Regions from separate parts of the Homo sapiens genome. Here regions 2 and 3 are each linked to region 1. Evidence: fine-mapped expression QTL. A gene starts in region 1. Each other region holds a variant in brackets. All regions are shown on one strand. Distances are between the middles of the regions.

What was found.
Region 2: its variant is fine-mapped to the expression of UNK in whole blood (INTERVAL, PIP above 0.99).
Region 3: its variant is fine-mapped to the expression of UNK in whole blood (TOPMed, PIP 0.99).

Annotation. Positions count from the first base shown.
Region 1 is chr17:75,781,169-75,789,340 of GRCh38, forward strand. It overlaps UNK (unk zinc finger), which reads left to right and starts at 3,638. Exons shown (of 16, transcript NM_001080419.3): 1 at 3,638-3,816. The coding sequence starts at 3,713. MIR4738 (microRNA 4738) reads right to left here and starts at 3,439; the gene lies at 3,353-3,439. RefSeq lists enhancers at 1,990-2,169, 3,732-4,310, 3,900-4,299, 4,311-4,888 and a silencer at 3,700-3,839.
Region 2 is chr17:75,754,854-75,763,025 of GRCh38, forward strand. It overlaps ITGB4 (integrin subunit beta 4), which reads left to right. Exons shown (of 40, transcript NM_000213.5): 35 at 848-997; 36 at 1,576-1,764; 37 at 1,851-2,006; 38 at 2,090-2,254; 39 at 2,347-2,457; 40 at 2,563-2,965. The coding sequence ends at 2,702. GALK1 (galactokinase 1) reads right to left here. Exons shown (of 8, transcript NM_000154.2): 4 at 8,161-8,172; 5 at 7,851-8,032; 6 at 3,596-3,746; 7 at 3,357-3,519; 8 at 3,041-3,274. The coding sequence ends at 3,203. Among named protein-coding and RNA genes, the nearest start is that of GALK1, 6.3 kb to the right of the region's middle. RefSeq lists a silencer at 534-703 and enhancers at 3,202-3,728, 3,729-4,255. The variant G/A (reference allele first, on the strand shown) is at 3,895.
Region 3 is chr17:75,812,321-75,820,492 of GRCh38, forward strand. It overlaps UNK (unk zinc finger), which reads left to right. Exons shown (of 16, transcript NM_001080419.3): 4 at 135-265; 5 at 758-893; 6 at 1,441-1,558; 7 at 2,849-2,933; 8 at 4,450-4,592; 9 at 5,006-5,206; 10 at 5,783-5,848; 11 at 6,322-6,496; 12 at 7,364-7,465; 13 at 7,600-7,788. Among named protein-coding and RNA genes, the nearest start is that of UNC13D, 28 kb to the right of the region's middle. RefSeq lists enhancers at 2,296-2,797, 2,798-3,297, 4,082-4,583, 4,584-5,083. The variant T/C (reference allele first, on the strand shown) is at 4,997.

The sequences.
Region 1 (8,172 bases):
AAGATGGTCTTGATCTCCTGACCTTGTGATCCACCCGCCTTGGCCTCCCAAAGTGCTGGGATTACAGGCATGGGCCACCGCCCCTGGCCGGTAATTTTTTTTTTTTTTGAAGTGGGGTCTTGCCCAGTCACCCATGCTAGAGTGCAGTGGTGCAGTGACCACGGCTCACTGCAGTTTTGACCTCCTGGACTCAAGCAATCCTTCTGCCCCAGCCTCCCAAAGTGCTAGGATTACAGGCATGAGCCACCATGCCTGACCTTCAGAGAATTACAGTACGTAAGTACAAATACCTCAATATTGACTTGTCACACCAGTGGTCAAGTATCAAACAATGAGAAAAAAATGCACACTTTGAAAAACTAGCTCAGCTTCATCTCAATCTCTGGTATCAAATTCCTGTTATTATTTCAGCCTTCTTAATTTTTTTTTTTTTTTTTTTGAGACGGACTCTTGCTCTGCTGCCAGGCTGGAGTGCAGTGGCGCGATCTCAGCTCCATGCAACCTCCACTTCCTGGGTTCAAGCGATTCCCCTGCCTCAGCCTCCCAAGTAGCTGGGATTGTAGGCATGCGCCACCATGCCCGGCTAATTTTTTGTATTTTAGTAGAGACAGGGTTTCCCATGTTGGCCAAGATGGTCTCGATCTCTGGACCTCGTGGTCCGCCTGCCTCTCGCCTCCCAAAGTGCTGGGATTACAGGCGTGAGCCACCGCGCTCAGCCAGCCTTCTTAATCTTAACGTGCACATTATGTATTTAATCATCATATACCTAAATTTACTGTGATAACCAACTTTGATTTCTGCCTTTGACTCAAAATTTGAGGTAGGGAAAAATTACATGATTTTATTAATGCCATGCTGAGAAGAGAAACCTAGGTGGATTCTCATGCTTTATTCTCAAACCTGTGTCAAGTTAAGAAACAGGGGACTGTTTAGACACACATATGAGGCTGTCAAATTCTCTGGGATGCAAACAGAAAAATAACTTGTCATCTTTTTTTTTTTTTTTTTTTTGACTTTGGCCTAGAAGAGGAATAGGCTTTCTAAATTGGTCCCCCACTTTGTGTTCCACGATTTTTTTTTTTTTTTTTTTTTTTGAGATGGAGTCTTGCTCTGTCGCCTAGACTGGAGTGCAGTGGCGCCATCTCGGCTCACTGCAAGCTCCGCCTCCCAGGTTCACACCATTCTCCTGCCTCAGCCTCCTGAGTAGCTGGGACTACAGGCGCCCGCCACCACGCCTGGCTAATTTTTTTGTATTTTTAGTAGAGACAAGGGTTTCACCATGTTAGCCAAGATGGTCTCGATCTCCTGACCTTGTGATCCGCCCACCTCGGCCTCCCAAAGTGCTGGGATTACAGGCTTCAGCCACCACTCCCTGCTGTGTTTCACGATTTTTCTAGGTTATACAGAATCCTGTCATTTCCATGCCTTTGTGTGGATGGACAGTCATTTTCTTTCCAGCTTTGCTGATTATTAGAAACTAAAGCCACCCGGAGAAAAAAGGTATGGATATACATTTATCCATTTAAGTATGATTCGTGGAAACAGGAGTCCGGGCGCAGTGGCTCACGCCTGTAATCCCAGCTCTTGGGAGGCTGAGGAGGGTGGATCGTGAGGTCAGGAGTTCGAGACCAGCCTGACCAACATGGTGAAACCACGTCTCTACTAAAACTACAAAAATCAGGTGGGCGTGGTGGCACACACCTGTAATCCCAGCTACTCAGGAGGCTGAGGCAGGAGAATTGCTTGAACCTGGGAGGCAGAGGTTGCAGTGAGCCGAAATCACACCACTGCACTCCAGCCTGGGCAACAGAGCAAGACTCTGCCTCAAAAAAAAAAAAAAAAAAAAAAAAAAAAGGCTGTCTCTCTTACTTCGTAGTCATGCAGGTATGTTTCACTTTTTCCAGATTGGTACAACGGAGGAAAAGCAACACAGGAAATGAGGAAGAATAAAAAATGTTTATACAATGAAAAAAAGCAGAAGAAAACAAAACAAACAAAACCCAACAGTGAATGTGATGTAGTCTTGTAGGCTACTGTCCTAGTTCCTCTTGTTACCAACTTGCTGAGTAACTTTGTGCAAGTTACTTAGCTTCTCTGGGTTTCGGTTTCCTCTTTTGTAAATTAAGCAGTTTGGATGATATCATCTCCCAACTCCACCAGTACACACTTATTCTGAAGCTCATGATATACATCTATTATTTAAAATCCAGTGCTGTGAACTCTATTTCTTCAGTCAGATCACACTTGAGTATTGTGAGGCTAACATAAACCAAGTAACTTGCGTTTAATCATAGGATTAAAGCAATATACTACAACTTTTATTTGTCCTTTTGTAATTTTTCATTTTCAAACGCCCCTAGTGGCTAAACGATTTAGCCTGTTTAGGAAAAACCAGTTTCTCAACTCTGTGATGTGGCTTCTGATGTGAGGGAACTTGGAGCTAAATAAAATAAGTATGTGTCACTCAAACATTAACGATTTTCCATTAGCCCCACCACCCTTCATCCCTAAGGTTATTTGGAATGTGTTTCTTTAATGAGATAATCATTTGTTAATATAATCCCATCTAAGAAAATATAAATCAAAACCAGTGGATTTGAAATAGATTCAATATGAAAAACCAAATTAAATGACAACGGTTAAAATATCTACGGAGAACATTCTAAAACTCACAGAAACAAATGCCTAGGTCTGGGGCATCTGGCTTATTTTATAAAGTGAAGAACTTTGCTTGACTGGTGGGAAGCAGAGAGGGGAAAGATAATGTCCCAAGTAAAAAGGCTGACGTCCAGACAAGAAAACTAGAGTGGATAAATACGGGCACGCCCTACTCAAACCCAGGCCTTTCCTCTGGACCCTGTGATGCTTCTCAACACTGGCAACTTGTCAGTGTACCTCAGAGACTATTCTAGGCGGAGATTAAATTCGTCCTTGGCCCTTAATGTACTGGAAACAAGTTGGTCAGGCCAGGTGTCAGGCTGAGAAAGCACACAAGTCGTGGAGTTCCAGGTGTCGAGTTTGGCAAAGGTAAATGAAGCGCCTCGGCAAAGGCGCGGGAACTGTAGCGTGCGGTGTACCTCCTCCTTAGCAAAGCTTTCTCAATGCCTCTTAGGTTAGACCCGCCGCAGGGATGAAGGGGTTGCTGGCGGATTGCAGGTGCCTGCAGCACAGGGCCCAGAACTAAGAACCGACAACACAGATTCTTAAGCCCTGCTTGGAGCACTGCTCTGAGCTGGCATTAGAACCGAACCTAGCTGTACTAAGTATAAAGGCAAAGTAGTTATGACACTGTTGGCAGTGAAATTATACTTGGAACTCTTTCGCAGAAATCGCTAGGGCCTCCCTAGCTCTGGGCCCCTTCTCCTCCAGGCGCTCCAGTTTCATGGAAAGGCTTCCCTATGAAACTGAAAACGCGCTGGTAAGAAGGAGAAATGCGACCGGACTGCAATTCCCAGAAGCCGTCGCAGGCCCTCAGCATCCGGGACACTAGCAGCAAGGATCCCTGGGTATTGTGGTCCTGTGCTTTGCCAGCAACCCTCTGCCGACGGTAAAATTCCAGCCGGACATAGAACCACAACTCCCAGCAACCCCTGCTGCCGTGTGGGGGGTCTTCACGTTCTCGTGGCGCGGCGCAGGCGCACTGGGTCCTCGGCGCGGACCGCGCAGACTGAATAATAAAAGGGGAGCGGCGAAGAGGCAGGAAGACAAGACCATGTCGAAGGGCCCCGGGCCCGGCGGCTCCGCAGCTTCCTCGGCGCCCCCGGCCGCTACCGCTCAGGTGCTGCAGGCACAGCCCGAGAAACCGCAGCACTACACGTACGTAGAGCCCCCCCCCCCCCGCCGCGCGCGCACGCCTGACGTCAGCGGCCAGCGTGAGTCACGCGCGCAGGGAGAGCGCGAGGCGGCCTCTTCCTCCCCCCCTTCCTCCTCCGGCCCGGCCCAGACCGGTTCCAACCTGCTGGGGCCGGTCCCAACTGCCTCCAACTGCCACCAACCTCTGGTCGGGCTGTGGGGCGGGAAACTCGGTCCCGGCCGCCGAGTGGGGAAGGCGGGAGCTCGGGATGCAGAGTGCACTCTCCCTAGGCCAGGCCTTCGAGGCCTAACTGTTCCTCAGACCATAAAACCACAGTAGTAGGCTCCTTTGGGGCAGTGAGAAGTCCAAGACACAACCAAGAGGAGTTCCGTGGGGTCCAGCCCCAGAACCCACCTATGAATGATGATTAACGTGAAGTCCTGTCAGGAGATTCCGTGCAGTTTGCGCAGGAAGCCTTTTGTGTCCCTAAGGCTCGTAGGTTGTCCACGAGGGCCACACTTGCTTGAATTCACAGTCGACGTAGATAAACATGCAAAGATGGAAACGTGTCCGTGCGTGCCCATGACCGTTTCCCTCGCGGGCTGTGCGGAGCCTGAGTCTGGGAGCCCGAAGGTGATGGGTTCCAAGTATGTCTGCAGGCTCAGCAGAAATGTAGCATTAGAGGGAGCCCCAAATACTGACACTACAGGAGTCCAGCAGGATGGGAAAACCTCTTCCTGGAAGTCTTGCATCTGTGTGCTTTTAGGTCGCTGTCTTCATTTCCTTCAAGCCACGTTAAGCATTCCCTAGAGTTAGGTGATGTGGGAGAAAGATGAATAAGGGGCGGTTTCTCCTGTTAAGCAAAATGTTGCTTTCCATTTTCCCTGATGCTCTGTGAATGCCTCTCATCCCCATGGGCTCCTGAGTGATGTGCATGTTTAAAAGGATCCCCAGCTGCGAGAGGTTTTGGAACCTGGGGGGTTGAACAGCTCTTAAGTTGTTCAGTGAACGAAGAACAGAATCATCTGTTGGAGTAGAAAGAACTCAAACCAGTCAGGAGGAACTCTTGTTATAGAAGACCTTGGGAAACTGTTCTGGGGTTGGGGAACATTGGTTATAGGAAGTGTATGGTTTCTTTGTGGGATTCTTTGTTGTTGGCTGAAATCATTTAAGCTTCTTGACTACAGTCTGACTCACGTTAACCATTCCTTTTCTGATATGGACATTGCTTTCCTGGTCCTTTCTTACTGGAGATCTTTCGCAGTCTTTCCATTGATTTTGGTGAGATGTTCTTAGCTCAAAGACTACTGATGAGTTGAATGGTGTAGTCTTGATTTTCGAATCTGGAAACTTCACGTAATTGGAACTTCTTTATAATCTCTGGTTGCTCAGATCACTGTTTTTAGCAAAATAAACACATTTTGAGTCACGAGAGTCTTGGCTTCAGCAACTTGTGTTTCTGTGTTGTGTTGTCATTGAGCATACTATGGAATCTGTAATAGAAAGGCTTTCTTATTTTGGAATTGACAGGTGAAACAAGTGAACAGCTGATTAAATGTCAGTATCTGAGTCTTTGTCCTCTTGATGCTCATTTGTTTAAAACCTGTCTTTCCTGCCGGGCGTGGTAGCTCTCACGCCTGTAATCACAGCATTTTGGGAGGCCGAGGCGGATCGCATGAGGTCAGGAGTGAAGAGACCAGCCTGCCCAATATGGCAAAACCCCGTCTCTACTAAAAATACAAAAAATTAGCTGGGTGTGCTGGCGGGCGCCTGTAATCCCAGCTACTCAGGAGGCTGAGGCAGGAGAATCGCTTGAACCCGGGAGGCGGAGGTGGCAGTGAGCCGAGATCGTGCCACTGCACTCCAGCCTGAGCGACAAGAGCAAAACTCCGTCTCAAAAAACAGAAACAAAAACAAAAAAAAAGCCTGCCTTTCCATTCCTTGTGGGTAAGTATAGAGTAATGGGACCTGGCTCTTGAGGTGTCTTAGGAAATCAACAGGAGTAGGTGAAATAGCCAAGCTTGATGGGAGGTTGTAGGTGTTCTTATCTCTTTGTCTGTTCATATGTATGTGTGTTTTTATATTTGTATTTCCAAAAATCAGAGATAGAAATCAGTGGTCTTTCTTGCTAGACTTACTAGCATTCAGAAGCTGTGATGACCTGGAAAACTTCATCCCCTAGTCCTCCTAGGGCTGAGGTGCAGGGAGCATGAGGACACATATGATGGAACCAGCACACTTGCTGGCTCTGATTTTTCTTTTTCTTTTTTTTAAGATAGGGTCTCTGTCATCCAGGCTATAGTGCAGTGTCACCATCTCAGCTCACTGTAGCCTCGACCTCCCTGGCTCAAGTGATCCTCCCACCTCAGTCTCCTGAGTAGCTGGGACTACAGGCACACCTGGATACATTTTTTTGGTATTTTTTGTAGAGACGTGATTTTGCCATGTTGCCCAGCCTAGTCTCGAACTCCTGTGATCGAGCAGGCGCAAGCAATCTACTGTTGGGCCTTGGCCTCCCAAAGTGCTGGGAGGCCACCACACCCAGCTTTTTTTTTTTTTTTCCTCTTCTTAAAAGAGACATGGGCAGGGTGCGGTTGCTCACACCTGTAATCCCAGCACTTTGGGAGCCTGAGGTGGGTGGATCACTTGAGGTCAGGAGTTCGAGACCAACCTGGCCAACATGGAAACCCCGTCTCTACTAAAAATACAAAAAATTAGTCAGGCCTGGTGGCACACACCTGCAGTCCCAGCTACTCAGGAGGCTGAGGCAGGAGAATCGCTTGAACCCAGGAGGCAGAGGTTGCAGTGAGCAGAGATTGTGCCACTGCACTCCAACCTGGGTGACAGAGTGAGACTCGGTCCAAAAAAAAAAAAAAAGAGAGACGTGATCTCTCTGTGTTAACCAGGTGGACTTGAATTCCTGGGCTCAAGCAGTCCTGCCTTAGCCTCCTGAGTAGCTGGGACTACAGGCACATACCACCATACCTGCTTCCCTCCACCCCCATAAGGTGAATTCATTTATTGCCCTTGGGAGTTAGGGGGCGGGAGCATTTTGATTTTGATTTTAAATGAAAATTTGAGCTGCTTGGGAGGTAAACAGTGGGTACACATGGACATACGGAGTGGAATAATAATTGATCATTGATAATAATTGATCCCATTTTGAATACAGAGATAGACCCCTTTTGAATATTTGTAAGTTTTTGCCTGTCAATTTTTTCTTTTTTTTTTTTTTGGAGACAAAGTCTCACTCTGTTGCCCAAGCTGGAGTGCAGTGGCGTGATCTCAGTTTACTGCAACCTCCACCTCCCGGGTTTAAGCAATTCTCCTGCTTCAGCTTCCTAAGTAGCTGGGACTGCAGGCACACGCCACCATGGCTGGCTAATTTTTGTATTTTTAGTAGAGACAGGGTTTCACTGTGTTGGCCAGGCTGATCTCGAACTCCTAACCTCGTGATCCGCCCACCTTGGCCTCCCAAACTGCTGGGATTACAGGCGTGAGCCACTGTTCCCGTCTGCCTGTCAAATTTTTTACCTTTTTAAACTTTTATTTATTTATTTAGTTGTATTTTTAGTAGAGATGGGGTTTCACCATGTTGGTCAGGCTGGTCTTGAACTCCTGACCTCGTGATCTGCCCGCCTCGGCCTCCCAAAGTGCTGGGATTACAGGTGTGAGCCACCGCGCCCAGCCACTTTTATTTTTATTTTTAATTTTTTTTTTAAATTTATTTTTGTCACCCAGGTTGGTTGGACAGAGCAAGAGACAGGATCTTGCTCTGTCACCCAGGCTGGTGTACAGTGGCATGGGAAGGCGTGAGCCTGAGAAGGTGTGAGCCACCTCACCTGGACTTTCTTATACATTAATTAATTTTGTATAGTTTTATACCTGATGTTATTTGAAATTAGGTAACATGCTGTAGTCTTTGCAATAATCCAGAGACACTTGTGTGATAATTGAGTCTCACTCACCATAACAGTAATCTTGGCAAACACAGTTGAATACACTAAAAGCAAAAAATTATGTTGCCATTGGTTTCCCTTTCTTGCCCTTCATTCTTGTGCTGAAATTAAAGTTCTTAGAGTTTGAGCCCTCCTTTTCCTAAACCAAGAGGATTATTCATAACATAGTTTAAAGGATAATTTTGTTGATTTTTTTTTTCTAAACTCTTGAATAATCTTGCTTTAAGGGAAACTTTGGAATAATCCTTTCAGCAAATTGGTGTAGCAGGCACTTGTGCTGGACTTAGGAATCCAGTCCTTTTAGAAAACAGTTATGTCAGAAGTTCCTTTATTGTACAGCTCCAAGTATTTGCTTAGCACTTAGTAAAACGATAATGTATATGTATTATTATTCTTCCAATACAAGAACCACATGACCTC
Region 2 (8,172 bases), 26 kb before region 1:
CTTCCTCTCTTCCAGCTCCTGGAGCCTCGGGCTTCTGTCTGCTGTCCCCACCGCCCATTCTCCAACATACACACACGCATGCACACATGCACGCACACACGTGCACACGCATGCACACATGTACACAGACATGCATGCGCACACGTACACACATGCATGCACACTCCCTGCTCCTCTCACTCTTGTTTTGTCCTGCCCTAGGCCTCCCTCCCATCTGGGAACACGGGAGGAGCAGGCTTCCGCTGTCCTGGGCCCTGGGGTCCCGGAGTCGGGCTCAGATGAAAGGGTTCCCCCCTTCCAGGGGCCCACGAGACTCTATAATCCTGGCTGGGAGGCCAGCAGCGCCCTCCTGGGGCCCAGGTAGTACAGGGGTGGCCATCCTGTCTCCACAGCTGTCCTGCTCCATCTGTCATCCAGCCACCATAGCAGCCGCCAGCTGTGCCCACTGCTTCCCCTCCATTCCATCCACAGGACCCCCGCCTGCCCACAGGCGCTAACCACCTGCCCTACCATCAGTGCTGATGCCTAACTCTGCCTCTGCCCTCCCAGGGGGCGGGGCTGGGGCTGGGGCAGGAGAGGGGCCAGGCCAGCTGAGCAGTTGAGGGGGTGGGGCTGGCAGACTCACGGGGCTCACTCTCTTTTGGCACAAGCAGGGCCTGCACCCTGCTGGAGGATGTGCGGTAGGTGCTGGGCAGCCTGGACAGGGTGTTGCAGGGTGAGTGAGTTGTCCAGCCAGCGGTCAGTGTAGACATGCCAGCTGAGGGAGGGAGGTCAGGGGGCAGCACTGTGACTCCCACTGAGACCCTAGCCCCTGCATCTCTGGCTGACTGCGGCCTCCTGTCCCCAGACTCTCGCCTGACTGCTGGTGTGCCCGACACGCCCACCCGCCTGGTGTTCTCTGCCCTGGGGCCCACATCTCTCAGAGTGAGCTGGCAGGAGCCGCGGTGCGAGCGGCCGCTGCAGGGCTACAGTGTGGAGTACCAGCTGCTGAACGGCGGTGAGGCATGGTGGCTGCCAGGCTGCGGGGTGCAGCCCTGCAAGGCCTGGCCCCAGTGTGACACATAGGGTACCTCAGCTGTGTCAGGAACCCACCCAAGTCCCTTGAGCGCTAAAGCCCCCATCCAGCCTGAGAGGGTCTCCCACCCCATTCTCCACCCCACTTCTTTGCCTCCCCTCTTCTGAGGTCTCACCCACCTCCCTGGGCCTCTCTCCTGGTCATTCTCTGCTAGGTTTTGCCTAACAAGGCCCCTTTGGGCTGGGATCCTAGGGCCTCTGCTGGCCTGAGATGCCTTTGGGGGAACAAGGAAGTGGCACTTCCCTGGGCAGGCACATTCAAAGCAGCATGACCAGGATGCAGGATGTTGCCTAAACATGAGTGGGATTACAGGCTCCACTCTTGTATAGTACACAATCTGAACAACCAGCCATACCATACTGTACCCAACCTGTACCCAAACCACAGCTAGTCCTGGGTGGGTGATAACTAGGTCTCGATGGCAGCTTAGGGACGAGGAGGATCAGGCCAGGGGTGGGAGTAACACTGCACTACTGTGTGCCCCCACCTGATCCCCCCAGGTGAGCTGCATCGGCTCAACATCCCCAACCCTGCCCAGACCTCGGTGGTGGTGGAAGACCTCCTGCCCAACCACTCCTACGTGTTCCGCGTGCGGGCCCAGAGCCAGGAAGGCTGGGGCCGAGAGCGTGAGGGTGTCATCACCATTGAATCCCAGGTGCACCCGCAGAGCCCACTGTGTCCCCTGCCAGGTGAGTTGCCTCCCCCAGCCCCAGAGCTGCCCCCATCATGCCCACCACCCACCCACAGGCTGATGCTCTTCCTCTACTGCCCCCAGGCTCCGCCTTCACTTTGAGCACTCCCAGTGCCCCAGGCCCGCTGGTGTTCACTGCCCTGAGCCCAGACTCGCTGCAGCTGAGCTGGGAGCGGCCACGGAGGCCCAATGGGGATATCGTCGGCTACCTGGTGACCTGTGAGATGGCCCAAGGAGGAGGTGCTGCCCACCCCGGGGGCAGGAGTGGCCAGGGGAGGGGTAAAGAGGGGGCCGCAGACGCTGAAGGCATCTTCCCTGCTCAGGGCCAGCCACCGCATTCCGGGTGGATGGAGACAGCCCCGAGAGCCGGCTGACCGTGCCGGGCCTCAGCGAGAACGTGCCCTACAAGTTCAAGGTGCAGGCCAGGACCACTGAGGGCTTCGGGCCAGAGCGCGAGGGCATCATCACCATAGAGTCCCAGGATGGAGGTAGGCACCTGTCCTTTCCTTCACCCCCACCCCTCCTCGGGCCGTGCCTCCTTCTGGCACCACCCTCTGACTGGCCTATCTGCCCACCCCAGGACCCTTCCCGCAGCTGGGCAGCCGTGCCGGGCTCTTCCAGCACCCGCTGCAAAGCGAGTACAGCAGCATCACCACCACCCACACCAGCGCCACCGAGCCCTTCCTAGTGGGTGAGCACTGAGGGCTAGGGGATCCCGGCTCTCCTGGGACAGGGAGCTAGCAGAGGGAGAAGGGCAGACCCCAAGCCAGGTCATCTAATGCCTCCTCCTCCACAGATGGGCTGACCCTGGGGGCCCAGCACCTGGAGGCAGGCGGCTCCCTCACCCGGCATGTGACCCAGGAGTTTGTGAGCCGGACACTGACCACCAGCGGAACCCTTAGCACCCACATGGACCAACAGTTCTTCCAAACTTGACCGCACCCTGCCCCACCCCCGCCACGTCCCACTAGGCGTCCTCCCGACTCCTCTCCCGGAGCCTCCTCAGCTACTCCATCCTTGCACCCCTGGGGGCCCAGCCCACCCGCATGCACAGAGCAGGGGCTAGGTGTCTCCTGGGAGGCATGAAGGGGGCAAGGTCCGTCCTCTGTGGGCCCAAACCTATTTGTAACCAAAGAGCTGGGAGCAGCACAAGGACCCAGCCTTTGTTCTGCACTTAATAAATGGTTTTGCTACTGCTAGGCCCTGCCTTGCCCATTCTTCTGGGGCCTGAGAGGTGCTCCCCTAGGGTAGGGGAGCGGTTCTGACATCCCCCATTCTCTGACACCCAAGCATACACCCACCTCTAGAGGAGGCAGGTACCACATTGGAGGCACAAGTTTATTGAGCACCCGGATATGGAAGATGGCACCGGGCACAGAGCCGTGGGACTGGCCTGCAGGCCCCGCACCCTCACCGTGTGCTGTCCTGGGGGTGCCTCACAAGCACAGCACCTTGGCTCCATCGGCTGCTTGAGAGAGGTAGAAGGTGGCAGTCCCGCCGTAGTGCTCCTGTAAGAGGCGGGCTGGGGGTGAGTGGCAGGGCCCCGGGAAGCTGCCGCTCCTGCCCGCCCAGGCCCTGGTGCCCGCCCACCTGGATGTGCCGCATGGCGTGGGGAGCAGCGGAGGCCTCCAGCAGTGTCACCGTGCAGCCACCGAAGCCACCGCCCGTCATGCGGCTGCCATAAACCCCAGGCACAGCAAGCGCAGCCTCCACCAGCTGGTCCAGCTCTGGGCAGCTCACCTCATAGTCGTCTCTGCAGAGAGGATATTGAAGGGGTGGGCCTGGGCCGGCCTGTGCCCGGCAGGAGCGGGGCGCCCAGAGGGCCTCACCTGAGTGAGCGGTGGCTCTCCACCATGAGGCGGCCAAAGGCTCTGTAGTCGCCACGTCTCAGGGCGGCCGCTGCCTGGGCCGTGCGCCGAATCTCCCCCACCACGTGCCGGGCCCGCCGGAAGCCCTCTTTGCTCACCAGGTCCCTGGCAGCTGGGGAGGAAAGAGGAGTCAGCAGCCGCCTTCTCACTGCCTGGGGCCCCGACGCCTGTGAGGACCAGCAGGCGGTGATGGCAGTGGCCCTGGCTGGACGGTGAAGGGTGGAAGGCCGCGGGGGCAGGGCAGCCTGGCTCTCTCAGAC[G/A]TGGGTCTGAAGAGCCCCTTTATCACAGTGCCTCCTCCCCCGACTGTAAAATGGGACACCTTGGTCCTTCAGGGAGCAGTGAGGGTTGAAACACTCCATGCTTTCCAAGGTGAGTGCTGCCCTCAAGAGGCCACCACAGAGCAGGAGGAGAAGAAGTTCTGCTGAGCCACATGGAGCCTCCAGGGCTGGGGCTCCAGAAGAGGGGGCAGAAGCAGCCAGGGACCAGCAGGCTGTCCCATCTGACTGGAGCTGAGGCTGGAGGGGTACCTGGGTCAGTACCAGTACTGACTCAGTGTACTGCGCCCGGCCAAACCCGCAGGTTTAAGGGGGAAGGTTGTTAGGGTAGGTGGCATGGCGGGATGGAGGGGCAAGTAGATTCAAAGGACTGAGAAATGAATGGGTGGGCGCGGTGGCTCACACCTGTAATCCCAGCACTTTGGGAAGCTGAGGCAGGCAGATTGCCTGAGGTCAGGAGCTCGAGACCAGCCTGGCCAACATGGCGAAACCCCGTCTCTACTAAAAATACAAAAGTTAGCCGGGCATCGTGGCAGGCGCCTGTAATCGCAGCTACTCAGGAGGCTGAGGCAGGAGAATTGCTTGAACCTGGGAGGCGGAGGTTGCAGTGAGTGGAGATCATGCCACTGCACTTCAGCCTGGGTGACAGAGTGAGGCTCCCTCTCAAAAAAAAAGAAAGAAAGAAAGAAAGAAATGAATGGAAATGAGACAGTGGGTGGTGTTTTAGGAGGGAAGAAAACTGAGCATGTCTTGGAGGCTGAGGGAAGGAGCCAGGCAGCCAGGCAGGGGATGGAAGGAGAGGGATTGCGCTTCTAGGGCAGGACTCTGGAGGAGGCAGGGTGAGCTGCTCCTATGCAGAAGGAGACCTGGAGGAGGGGCAAGGACAGGCTGGGGTGGGGAGGAGGGACCAACTTGTTCCAGTGTGAAAACCTTGGCCAAGGGCATCTGCACAGAGCAGGCAGGGCAGGTCTGAGCACTGCTCTGGAGAACGTGACACAGTTCACAAAGGAAAAGGACAGGGAGGTCCCTCGGAGCTGTCTAGTGTCCCTGAGATAGGCACACCTACACTGCCAGGAAGGAACAACTCAGTGTGGGCAGCACGGCCAGCCAGTCAAGAGCATGGGCCCTGGAGCTAATCTGTCCAGATGGGGTTCAGATCCCAGCACTGCCTCTCACTGTAGATTCCCCCATCAAAAATATGACAACTATGGTAGCAGAATGTGCTTTACAGAGTTTTGGAGGGAATTAAATGAGCTAATATTGATAATGACCTTAAAACTGTCCAATAGACTACCTTCCTGGCCATGTGTAGCAGGAGCCTTAAGGATACTTGTATCTTTTTTGTTTTGGAGACAGGATCTCACTTTGAGGCCCAGGCTGGAGTGCCATGGTGCAATCACAGCTCACTGCAGTCTCAACCTCCTGGGCTCAATTGATCCTCCCACCCCAGCCTCCTAAGTAGCTAGGACTACAGGCACACACCACCACACCTGGCTAATTTTTGTATTTCTTTAGAGATGGGGTTTTGCCATGTTGCCCAGGCTGGTCTCGAATTCCTGAGCTCAATGAATCTGCCCACCTTGGCCTCCTAAAGTGCTGGGATTACAGGCACAGACGTGAGCCACCGCACCCAGCCTACAATACTTGTGTCTCTTGACTCTGTAATCCTACTCCTAAGAATCCATTTCTAAGAAACTATTAAGAGAATGCAGATAGGCCAGGTGTAGTGGCTCACGCCTGTGCCTGTAATCCCAGCACTTTGGGAGGCCAAGGCAGGCGGATCACTTGAGGTCAGGAGTCCAAGACCAGCCTGGCCAATATAGTGAAACCCAGTGTCCACTAAAAATACAAAAAAAAAAAAAAATTAACTCGCTCTGGTGGCACACGCCTGTAGTCCCAGCCACTCCAGAGGCTGAGGCAGGAGAATTGCTTGAACCCTGAAGACGGAGGTTGCAGTGAGCCGAGATCACGCCACTGCGCTCCAGCCTGGGCTACAGAGCAAGACTCAGTCTCAAAGAAAAAAAAGAGAATGCAGATAAACCGGGTGCCTTTGGTTGCAGCTACCCAGGAGACTAGGTGAGAAGATTACTTGAGCCCAAGAGTTCAGGTCCAGCCTGGGCAACTTAGCAGAACCCATCTCTTTAAAAAATAAAAAAGATGGCCAGGCACAGTGGTTCATGCCTGTCATCCCAGTACTTTGGGAGGCTGAGGTGGGCAGATCACCAGGTCAGGAGTTCACGACCAGCCCGACCAACATGGTAAAACCTCATCTCTACTAAAAATACAAAAATTAGCCAGGTGTGGTGGCACATGCCTCTAATCCTAGCTACTCAGGAGGCTGAGGCAGGAGAATCACTTGAACCTGGGAGGCAGAGGTTGCAGTGAGCCGAGATCGTGCCACTGCACTGCAGCCTGGGTGACAGAGCAAGACTCTGTCTCAAATAAATAAATAAATAAATAATAAAAAAGATAAATAAAAAAAGTTAATCACAGTGTGAGGTGTATCAGAAAATAGTTAAGTAAATGACAGAGCACCTGAATGCTAAAATATTGTGGAGCTTTAAAGAGCCACACGGAGGCCAGGTGCAGTGGCTCACACATGTAATCCTAGCACATTGGGAGGCTGAGGCGGGCAGATCACGAGATCAGGAGTTCGAGACCAGCCTGGCCAACATGAAACCCCGTCTCTACTAAAAATATAAAAATTGGCTGGGCGTGGTGGTGGGTGCCAGTAATCCCAGCTACTCAGGAAGCTAAGGCAGGAGAATCATTTGAACCCAGGAGGTGGAGGATGCAGTGAGCCGAGATTGCGCCACTGCACTCCAGCCTGGGCAACAGGGCAAGCCTCCACCTCACCAAAAAAAAAAGAAAAAAAAAAAAAAAGAGCCACACCGAGATATGCCTTTCATGGCATAAGATAAGATAGGGTTCTGGGTTCTGAGATTATGTTTAGTTTAAAAAAAAAAAAAAAAGAGACCGGCACTATGGCTCACGCCTGTAATCCCAGCACTTTGGAAGGCTGAGGCGGGAGGATCACCTGAGGTCAGGCGTTTGAGACCAGCCTGGCCAACATGGTGAAACCCCAGTCTCTACTAGAACTATAAAAAATGTGCCAGGCGTAGTGGCGGGCGCCTGTAGTCCCAGCTACTCGGGAGGCTGAGGCAGGAGAATCACTTGAACCCGGGAGGCAGAGGTTACAGTGAGCTGAGATCGCACCATTGCACTCCAGCATGGGTGACAAGACCGAAACTCTGTGTCCAAAAAAAAAACACGGCAAATGGGCTGGGCGCAGTGGCTCATGCCTATAATCCCAACACTTTGGGAGGCCAAGGCAGGAGGACCACTTGAGGCCAGAGTTCAGGATCAGCCTGGGCAACACTGCAAGACCGTCTTTACAAAGATAAAAATTAGCCGGGCATGGTGGCACACCTGTAATCTCAGCTACTTGGAAGGCTGAGCTGGGAGGATCCCTTGAGCTCAAGAGTTCAAGTTTGCAGTAAGCTATGATCACACCACTACACTCCAGCTTGGGCAACAGAATGAGACCCTGCCTCTTAAAAAAAAGGGGGTGGGGGGGGAAAGTGATGATATATTACATATACTCAGCTTTGAAGACAGATGTGGAAAAATACTGAAAGGAAACGTGAAAATGTCAGCAGTGGCTATCTCTGGGTAGTGGCCTTATAGCTTATTATTTTCTACTTTGTACTTTTCTACATTTTCCACAATGGAAACATGATTTTTCTGATTAGATAAGACCATTTTAGGATTTCAAGCAGCCCTGCTGAGATTGGAACCCTGGGTGCGCAGTGTTTGAAGGGACTGGGGAGAGCATGGCAGAAGGCCCTGGAGATCGGGGTCCCAGGCAGGGTCAAGGCCACACTGAGGCGCCAGCAGGGAGCACAGCCGCCTCCAGGATAGAGCACCCTGGCAGTTCTCACCCTCTAGCTCTTCCAGTTGTACCTCCCGGAGGCTTTCCTTGCCCAGCGCCCGGGCCACTTCTTCACATTGGCGCCGCCGCACAGGGTACTCGCTGGAGGCCAGGGAGTGGCGGACATTAGAGTTGGTGATGAGCACGGCCAGCTTGGGGTCCGAGAGTGGCACCAGGCTGGTCTCCAAGGACCTGGGGTGGAGTTACAATGGGGGAGATGACGAGGCCAAGCGTGTGCTTGCTGCGCCAGGCAGTGGGCACACTCCCACCCAGGAGCTGCTGAGTGCAGGGCGGGAGGGGACGAGGGGAGCGAGCCCAACCTGCAGTCAATG
Region 3 (8,172 bases), 31 kb after region 1:
TAGGCTGGGGTCCAGGGCAGGGGCCTGGCGGCTAATGATGGTGAGTACCTCAGACTGCAGTGGAGGGCTGGCACTCTGGTTCTTGCCCCCTCATGCCCCCTCTCCACCCTCTCTGTTCTTTCCTCTCCTCCCAGGGAGCTTCAGGCCATGGAGGCCTTGCAGAATGGCCAGACCACGGTAGAGGGGAGCATAGAGGGCCAGTCGGCTGGGGCTGCGAGCCATGCCATGATAGAAAAGATCCTCAGCGAGGAGCCTCGGTGGCAAGGTACAGGCATCCACACCTCGGCCGCGCCCTCCCTATAATCCTGCTCATAGCTGCCCTGGGGATTTGGCTCACCACCACCTACTGCCTGCTCTAGCCGAGGCCCCGACCTGGCCCGCATCCCACCCTACACCCACCATTCAAAAGGCGCCTCTAGGGGCGTTTTCCCTGACACATCATGTTCCCAAGATCCCTCCAGGCTTTCACATGTGCACAGGCACGTACATAAGCGCACATGCAAATGTTTTCCGCCCTGCAAGAGTGCCCTTTCACCCTGTGAGCTGTGAGTGTCTCTCTGATGGACAGCATCTGTTGTCCTTGCTGCACCTGGGGCTGTCCCATGGCCTGGGAGGAGGGGCCCTACTCACATCTGGCAGGGGCCTCCTGTCTTGAACTCCTTCCCAGTGGCTTCTCCTTCCCTCCACTCCAGTCCTGCTAGTCTTGGGGTGCTCCAGCTCCTCTCACCTGACCCCTGCCCTCTGGCCCCCTGTGCAGAGACTGCTTATGTGCTGGGGAACTATAAGACGGAGCCTTGCAAGAAGCCCCCGCGGCTGTGCCGCCAAGGCTATGCCTGTCCCTACTACCACAACAGCAAGGACCGGCGGCGGAGCCCCCGGAAGCACAAATACAGGTCCTTAGGCCCCAGGAGGCCAGCCACGGGAGGGAGGAGTGGCAGGGAAGGGGTCAGGCAGAGGCTGCTCCCACTGGCTCTCCGGGAGGAGGGGAGGCTGGTCCTGGGGATGACAGGATCGCAAGCCCAGGGCCCAGGGGAGGGCATAGTGAGGATAGCTGGACAGTAGGAGCCCAGCTTCACCTCCTGCATGAATGAGGACCCTGGTCAGACCGTCTCTGAGGCTCCACCGCTCCTGATCCTGAGGGGAATGTGTTGAATGAGGACCAGGCCACAGCGTGGACAGTGTGGTTGTAGCTCCAGCCTGACCCTACTTGGGCTAGTGGGAGGGCCTGGCTGAGGGGAATCAAACAGTATCCTTTGTGGTGATTCGGCCAGGCTGGGTCAGAGAAAGAGCTTGGCTTGTGGCACCAGCAAGGCCCTGACTCTGCAGCTGGTCTTTTCCATTTCTGTGCTCATGCCTATGAGGCTGGGTCCAGGTGGCACCTGCTAGGCTCCGATCTCACCTTCTCCTTTCTCCATCTGACCCCACCCTCTTGTTGGCCAGGTCGTCTCCATGTCCAAACGTCAAGCACGGGGATGAGTGGGGAGACCCTGGCAAGTGTGAGAACGGAGACGCCTGCCAGTACTGCCACACCCGCACCGAGCAGCAGTTCCACCCCGAGGTGGGCCCCACAGCAGGGTGGGGGGGTGGCTTTGGGAAGTAAGGAGAGAGGCAGGCAGGATCAGTGGAGATGTTGGCAGAACCCATCCTGATGCCATCCTGGAAGAGGGACTTGTGGCCACCAGCTCTCCCCTGGCAGTGCCTAGAGGATCCCTGCATGCTGAATTTGGCATCTTCTCCTATTCTGAGCCCACGCTCACCAAGCAGCCCTCTGCTTCCAGTTCTGTGTCCCCCAGGCCTCCTGACAGGGCAGGTGTAGATGGAGTGTGGCGACCTGGCCACTCTGGGCTTTCCACCACTCATGGTGCTTGTAATCCAGTGACATCAGGATTGAAAAAATAGGGCCAGGCACGGTGGCTTATGCCTATAATTCCAGCACTCTGGGAGGCCGAGGTGGGTGCATCACTTGAGGTCAGGAGTTTGAGACTACCCTGCAACATGCTATCTCTACTAAATGTACAAAAATTAGCCAGATTTGGTGGTGAGCGCCTGTAACCCCAGCTACTCGGGAGGCTGAGGTGGGAGGATCGCTTGAACCCGGGAGGCGGAAGTTGCAGTGAGCCAAGATCGCACCACTGCACTCCAGCCTGGGTGACAGAGCGAGACTCCATCAAAAAAAAAAAAAAAAAAAAAAGGATTGAAAAAAAGTAAGCTCCTTCCTGTTGCCCTGTCTCCTATCAGGGCCTAGATTATCAGCAACCTCCCTAACACAGTTCCCTTGCCCTCTGGCCCCAAGAGGTAGCCTGGGCCATATCTGTGTGCCTAGGTCTTGTCTGGGGTTCAGAGAGGCACCTGCAGTCCCTGCCCTTGGTGTTCCATGGAAGCCAGGACACCCTGAGGTAGACACGCGGACAGAAACTACCTTATGTAGCTGCAGACAGCAGAGTGGAAGGTTACTTATATAGGTCACAACCCAGGGTATCCTGACAGGGTTCACATTGGCAGGGGTAGTTGCCTGAGATTGTGGCTCCCTTAATGCCCAGGAGGCACGCTTGGAGGCACAGACCTGGCCATGCCCGTGAGTGGAGAGTCACTGGGGGATCCCTTTGGGAGGGCTGGTGGGACCTGTGGCCCCAGAACGGAGGCTGTCAGTGACAATGGGGAGTGGTGGTGGGCTGCCTCAGGAGTTTGAGTAAGAAGCTGGTAGGGAGAGACATAGTGGAGGGGAGGGGAGGGGCCGGGAACACAGGGCAAGAGATGACTAAGCCAGCGCACTCATGCTGGAGGAAGGGGAGCCTGCCCGGCCTTCCCTCAGGGCCTGAGCCTGACTTGCCTGTGCTCTGCCCTCCAGATCTACAAGTCCACCAAGTGCAACGACATGCAGCAGTCGGGCAGCTGTCCCCGAGGACCCTTCTGCGCCTTTGCCCACGTAGAACGTATGCTGTTCCCATTGCCCCGGGGCAGTGCCCTCTCCCACCCCTCCCTCGCCTGGCTAGCTCAGGCTTAGGCCGGGGATGGCCCCTGGCAGTATGCCCTGCACAGGAGTTCTGGCCTGCCAGCAGCAGGCCTTGTCCCCACTGGAAGCTCCATTCCCCCACCTTTCTGGAAGTAGCCTTGAAGGCCTAGAGCTTCCAAAGTAGTGAGATAGAGACTGCAGGGATTGTCCGCCTGGTTGAGCACTCATGGTTCCAGGGAGGGTTGAGGCACTGTGCCTCCCATGGCTGACTTGGCAAATCCCACCAGCCACCCCATGTCATACCCATGACAGACATCACTAATGGAACATGGAGCTCTTCTCTGCTGAGTCCTGCTCAGGCCTCTAGAGCAGAGCTAGCCAGTCAGAATATAGTGCAATCCCCATATGTCATTTTAAAGTTAAAATATTTAAGCATGTTAACAAAAATAGCAAAATATGAAAATAAGCTGGGCATGGTGGCACACGCCTGTAATCCCAACTACTCGGGAGGCTGAGGCATGAGAATCACTTGAACCCAGGAAGCAGAGGTTGCAGTGAGCCGAGATCATGCCGCCGCACTCCAGCCTGGGCAACAGGGCGAGACTCTGTCTTAAAAAAAAAAAAAAAAAAAAATTAAAAAAGAATTAAACATTGGAAAATATGTTGTTAAATTAATTTTAATAACATATTTGTATTTAGCCCAACATAAAAGGTTATTTCAATAATCAATATACAAAAATATCAAGACATTTCACCTTTTTTTGTACTAAGTCTATGAGATCTGATAGCATTTTAATGCCTACGGGATATTTCCATTCAGACCAGCCTGTTTCAGGGGCTCAGTAGCCACATGTGGCTTTCGGCTGCCTTGTGGGACAGTGTGGGTCTGGATCCTCAGCATGATACTGTAGGCCGCCACCAGTCTCAGAGACAGAGCTCCAGTTTGTACCTGTTAACACCTCTTTCCACCCCAAGATACTGCCCTGGGTCTCCTTAACCTCTTTCCAGGCTCAGGCCCTATCTCTGAGATGAGAATGGAAAATAAATCGAGGGCCCTGGGCGGGAGAAGCATATTCTTGATGCAGAGGTGGTCCCCGGCCATGGGCATTGGGACCGCCTGGCTGAGACGGCATAAGGAAGTGATTCAGGCTTTGGAGTTGTACAGATCAGCGTTCAAGACCCAGCTCCTCTGTGTTTTAGCTCTGTCACTTTGGTGGGTTTACCTTACCTCTCTGAGCCTCAGTTTTCTTATTTATAAAATGGAGACCATATTACTGGTATCTTCTGGTCACCATGAAGATTCACAATTACTGCAAAGTGCTGGCACAGTGCCTGGCACACAGTAAATGCACAGACATGGTGTTACTAGAGATGTCGTAGGAACCTTCCCTTTATGTGCAGGGGGATTTGTGGTCTCCTTTGGAAGGGACCCAGGAGCATTTTTGGAGGGACAGAGCTGGCTGGGGCCTGCTGACCCCTGCCCCTGACTCTTGCAGAGCCACCCCTGAGTGACGACCTGCAGCCTTCCTCAGCTGTGTCCAGCCCCACCCAGCCAGGTCCTGTCCTGTACATGCCATCTGCCGCCGGAGACTCGGTGCCTGTGAGCCCCTCCAGCCCGCATGCCCCTGACCTCAGTGCCGTACGTGTCCATCCTGGGGAGTGGGTGGGCACCATGCCTGACAGAGCCAATACTTGCCTCCTAGGCCCTTTCAGCCTGGGCTTGGGAGACCATCCTGGTATTTGTCCTCAGGCCAGGGGGATCTGTCTTTTCCATCTCAGCATTCTTCGTCAAAAGTCCAGGCCCGGGGGTGGGGTAGGGCAGTCCCCAGAGCCTGTGCTGATGAGCCTGTAGGACTGGTGGCAGGGACAAAGCCTGAGGTCACTCCCCTTTCCTTCGTGAGCTTCGGGCTCCCCGAGTGGTCACTGCTGCTCGTTGGCAGATGAAAGTGGAACTGAGCCCCTTGAAGACTCCCTCTGGAGAGGGTGGAGGATGGGCCACGCACCAGCCTGCGCTGTGCCCACGGGCCCACTCCCTCCCCTCCT[T/C]CTCCGCAGCTCCTCTGTAGAAACAGCAGCCTAGGCAGCCCGTCTAACCTCTGCGGCTCCCCACCGGGCTCCATCAGGAAGCCCCCAAACCTGGAGGGCATCGTCTTCCCTGGGGAGTCTGGCCTGGCCCCTGGCAGCTATAAGAAGGCTCCCGGCTTCGAGAGGGAAGACCAGGTGGGAGCCGAGTACCTGAAAAATTTCAAATGCCAGGTAAGGGATGAGGGAGGCAGCAGTGAGGTTAGCCTTCTCCTGCGTGGGGCAAGAGAATCTTGGAGGAGTGTCTTGGTCCAGCTACGGGGAGGATGACTGGGAGCTAGGACTCCACTGTCCTCGGCCTCTTCAGGACTGAACAGAGGGAGCAGTGTCAGCCCATTTGCAGCTGAAGACAGGAAGGCTGGGGAGGCTGCATAGCCTCCCCTGGGCTGCAGAGCTGGTTAGGAGAGGAGCCAGATCCCGCCTGGGTGCGGTCCTTCGGCTGCCCTGAACTGCCTTCATGGAAAGACAGGGCCTGGGGAAGCAGGACACAGGGGTCCCTAACTGGGCCTGGAGAGATACCTTCTGGGCTTACATGAGGCCTAGTGTCACCGGGAGGAGAAGGGCAGCTCCCTGCTTAGGGTAGGGGAAGGGAGTAGGGGGTGGGGAGGAAGAAGGGGGTGTGTGCATGCATGTGAAGAGGGGTTGCATGTCTGCCACCACCTGCCCCCTGGTACCTGCAGCCTCAGGGTCAGATGGACTCAGGGACCCCCCAGCACCACATTCATCCACTCCCTGAATTTTCTCTCTCAGGCCAAATTAAAACCCCACTCATTAGAGCCCAGGAGTCAAGAGCAGCCTCTGCTTCAGCCCAAACAGGTATAGAGCTCTCAGCCCCCTTCCTCCCCTCTGCTGTGGACAGGAGTGGCCCAGAACCCCAGGAGGCTTCGGGGAGTGGGAGGCACCACTTTTCCCAAAAGCTGAGGGCAGGACTAAAGTGGGGTCCCAGCCACAAATCCAGAGAGGGTAGGGGGTCAGGCCCTGGAGCCCCTCACCTCCTAGACTCAGTGGAGAAGGTGTTCCTGGAGCCTCTGCACTCTGCCAGGCCCTGTACTCGCTTCTCTCTTCCCTGCTACAGGACTGTAGGGGCGAATGGGCCTGGCAGCCTCCGCACCTCCAACTCCATGCTCTCAACAAGGTGTCGGGTGTGCCGGGGCCCATGTGGGCATGGGGGCACCCGGACTAGAGCTAGCACGGGCCATTTCCCTTGCCCCCAGCCCCTCTCCAGCCTCTCGTCCTGGCCTCCGTATGCAGGCCTACCATTGCTTCTCCTCTTCCCTCTCTCGTTGCAGGACATGCTGGGCATCCTCCCCGCAGGCAGCCCCCTGACCTCAAGCATCTCTTCTAGTATCACCTCCAGCCTGGCAGCTACCCCCCCTAGCCCAGTGGGCACCAGCAGCGTCCCCGGCATGAATGCAAACGCTCTGCCCTTCTACCCCACCAGCGACACGGTAGAGTCAGTCATAGGTAACTAGGCCATTTCTGTTTGAAAGCCCAGGACTGGGTCTGGGGTCAGAGACCCCCCAGTCTCTGAAGCGAGTCTCAAATCAGCACACCAGACCCCTTAGACATCTGTCTTCGGAAAATCAGGGGATGGGCACTCTGAGTCCTTTGAGCTAAAGGGGAAATGACCCCAAGGTGTAGGGCCAGGACTGACCCTTAGAGCTCCTTTGTGCAAATTAGAAAGAGGTGCCTTTTCCCCTTGGTGAGTACAGTCTCACCCCAAGACGTGTTGTTCAGTCCCCACTCATCTCACTGGTGTCCTTGTGTAGTGAATGGCCAGCACGACGTTCTCAGAATCCCTGGTGCTAGAAGTTGGTGCTCCTTTCTTTCAGTACTCATTTCTAGGTGCCCGCTTTGTGCCAGGTCCTGTGGCAGGCACTGAGGAGACAGATGACAACATGCTGCTCCTGCCCTCTAGAGGGAAACTTCCCACCCAGTGGACATTTGTCAAGCACCTGCTATACACCAGCCACTGAGTGCCCAGAGACCCGCCCACCCCCACTGATCCCGGGGCTGAGACCCTTGAGTTGTAACATCAGGGGACAAGACCCTTGTCCGAGGCAGGGACCCTGGATGGGGATGTGATTTCTCCTGGAAGTATCAAAGAAGATTCAGAAAGGAGAGGCATTTGGGTTGGACATGACTGGCAGACGGTGTCAGAAGTCAGGAGTCAGGATTGGCATAGGAAGCAGCTGAAGGAAGGGCACAGGGGCTTGGGAGAATACGGACCCAGCGTAGCATGGGCGTGAAGATGCAGCGTGGGCAGTAGACGAGGTGGTCAGGGTCAGATAGTCCCTCGGGAGGTCACATCCCACTCTTCTCTGTCCCTAGAGTCTGCTTTGGATGACCTGGACCTGAATGAGTTTGGCGTGGCCGCCCTGGAGAAGACTTTCGATAACAGCACAGTGCCCCACCCAGGAAGCATCACCATCGGTACTGGGTGTGGGTGGGCAGGGCAGCCTGGAGGACTCCTCGGGTTCCTGCCTGGCTCAGGCCCCTTGCTCTGTGTGGCCCGCCTGGCTTCCGCTGCCCTCACCCAGCCCGTCCTCCCCGGGCCTCTCTTGCAGGCGGCAGCTTGCTGCAGAGCTCTGCACCCGTGAACATCCCCGGCTCCTTGGGCAGCTCTGCCTCCTTCCACTCAGCATCCCCGTCCCCTCCCGTCAGCCTCTCCTCGCATTTCCTGCAGCAGCCCCAGGGCCACCTGAGTCAGTCGGAAAACACATTTTTGGGAACCTCAGCATCACATGGATCTTTGGGTAAGAGAGGGAGTGGTTCACTCAGGAGAACTGGGGCAGGAACCTGCGCCTTTAGGAGGTGCCTCTGGCCACCCCATCTACGGCATATCAGCTAGGCTGGGGGTTAGGGCAGAGGCCTTGGGCGAGGAGGCAGAGTCAGATTCCTGTCTGTGTGACCCTGGACAAGTGATTGAGCCTCTCTGCCTTAGTTTCCTCTGCTGTGAAATGGGTATAACGGCAGCATCCACCTCCTAACGTTGTGAGCATTGAATGGAGTAATGGGGCTGAAGTGCTAGGCACGAGGCCAGTGCAGGTGAGAGCAGGGGTCTCAGTTGCCAGGGCTGGGCCTGGTCTCTTTCACAGCATGGTTCTGTTCTGCCCAGTCACCCCAGGCTCCGAGAGGCT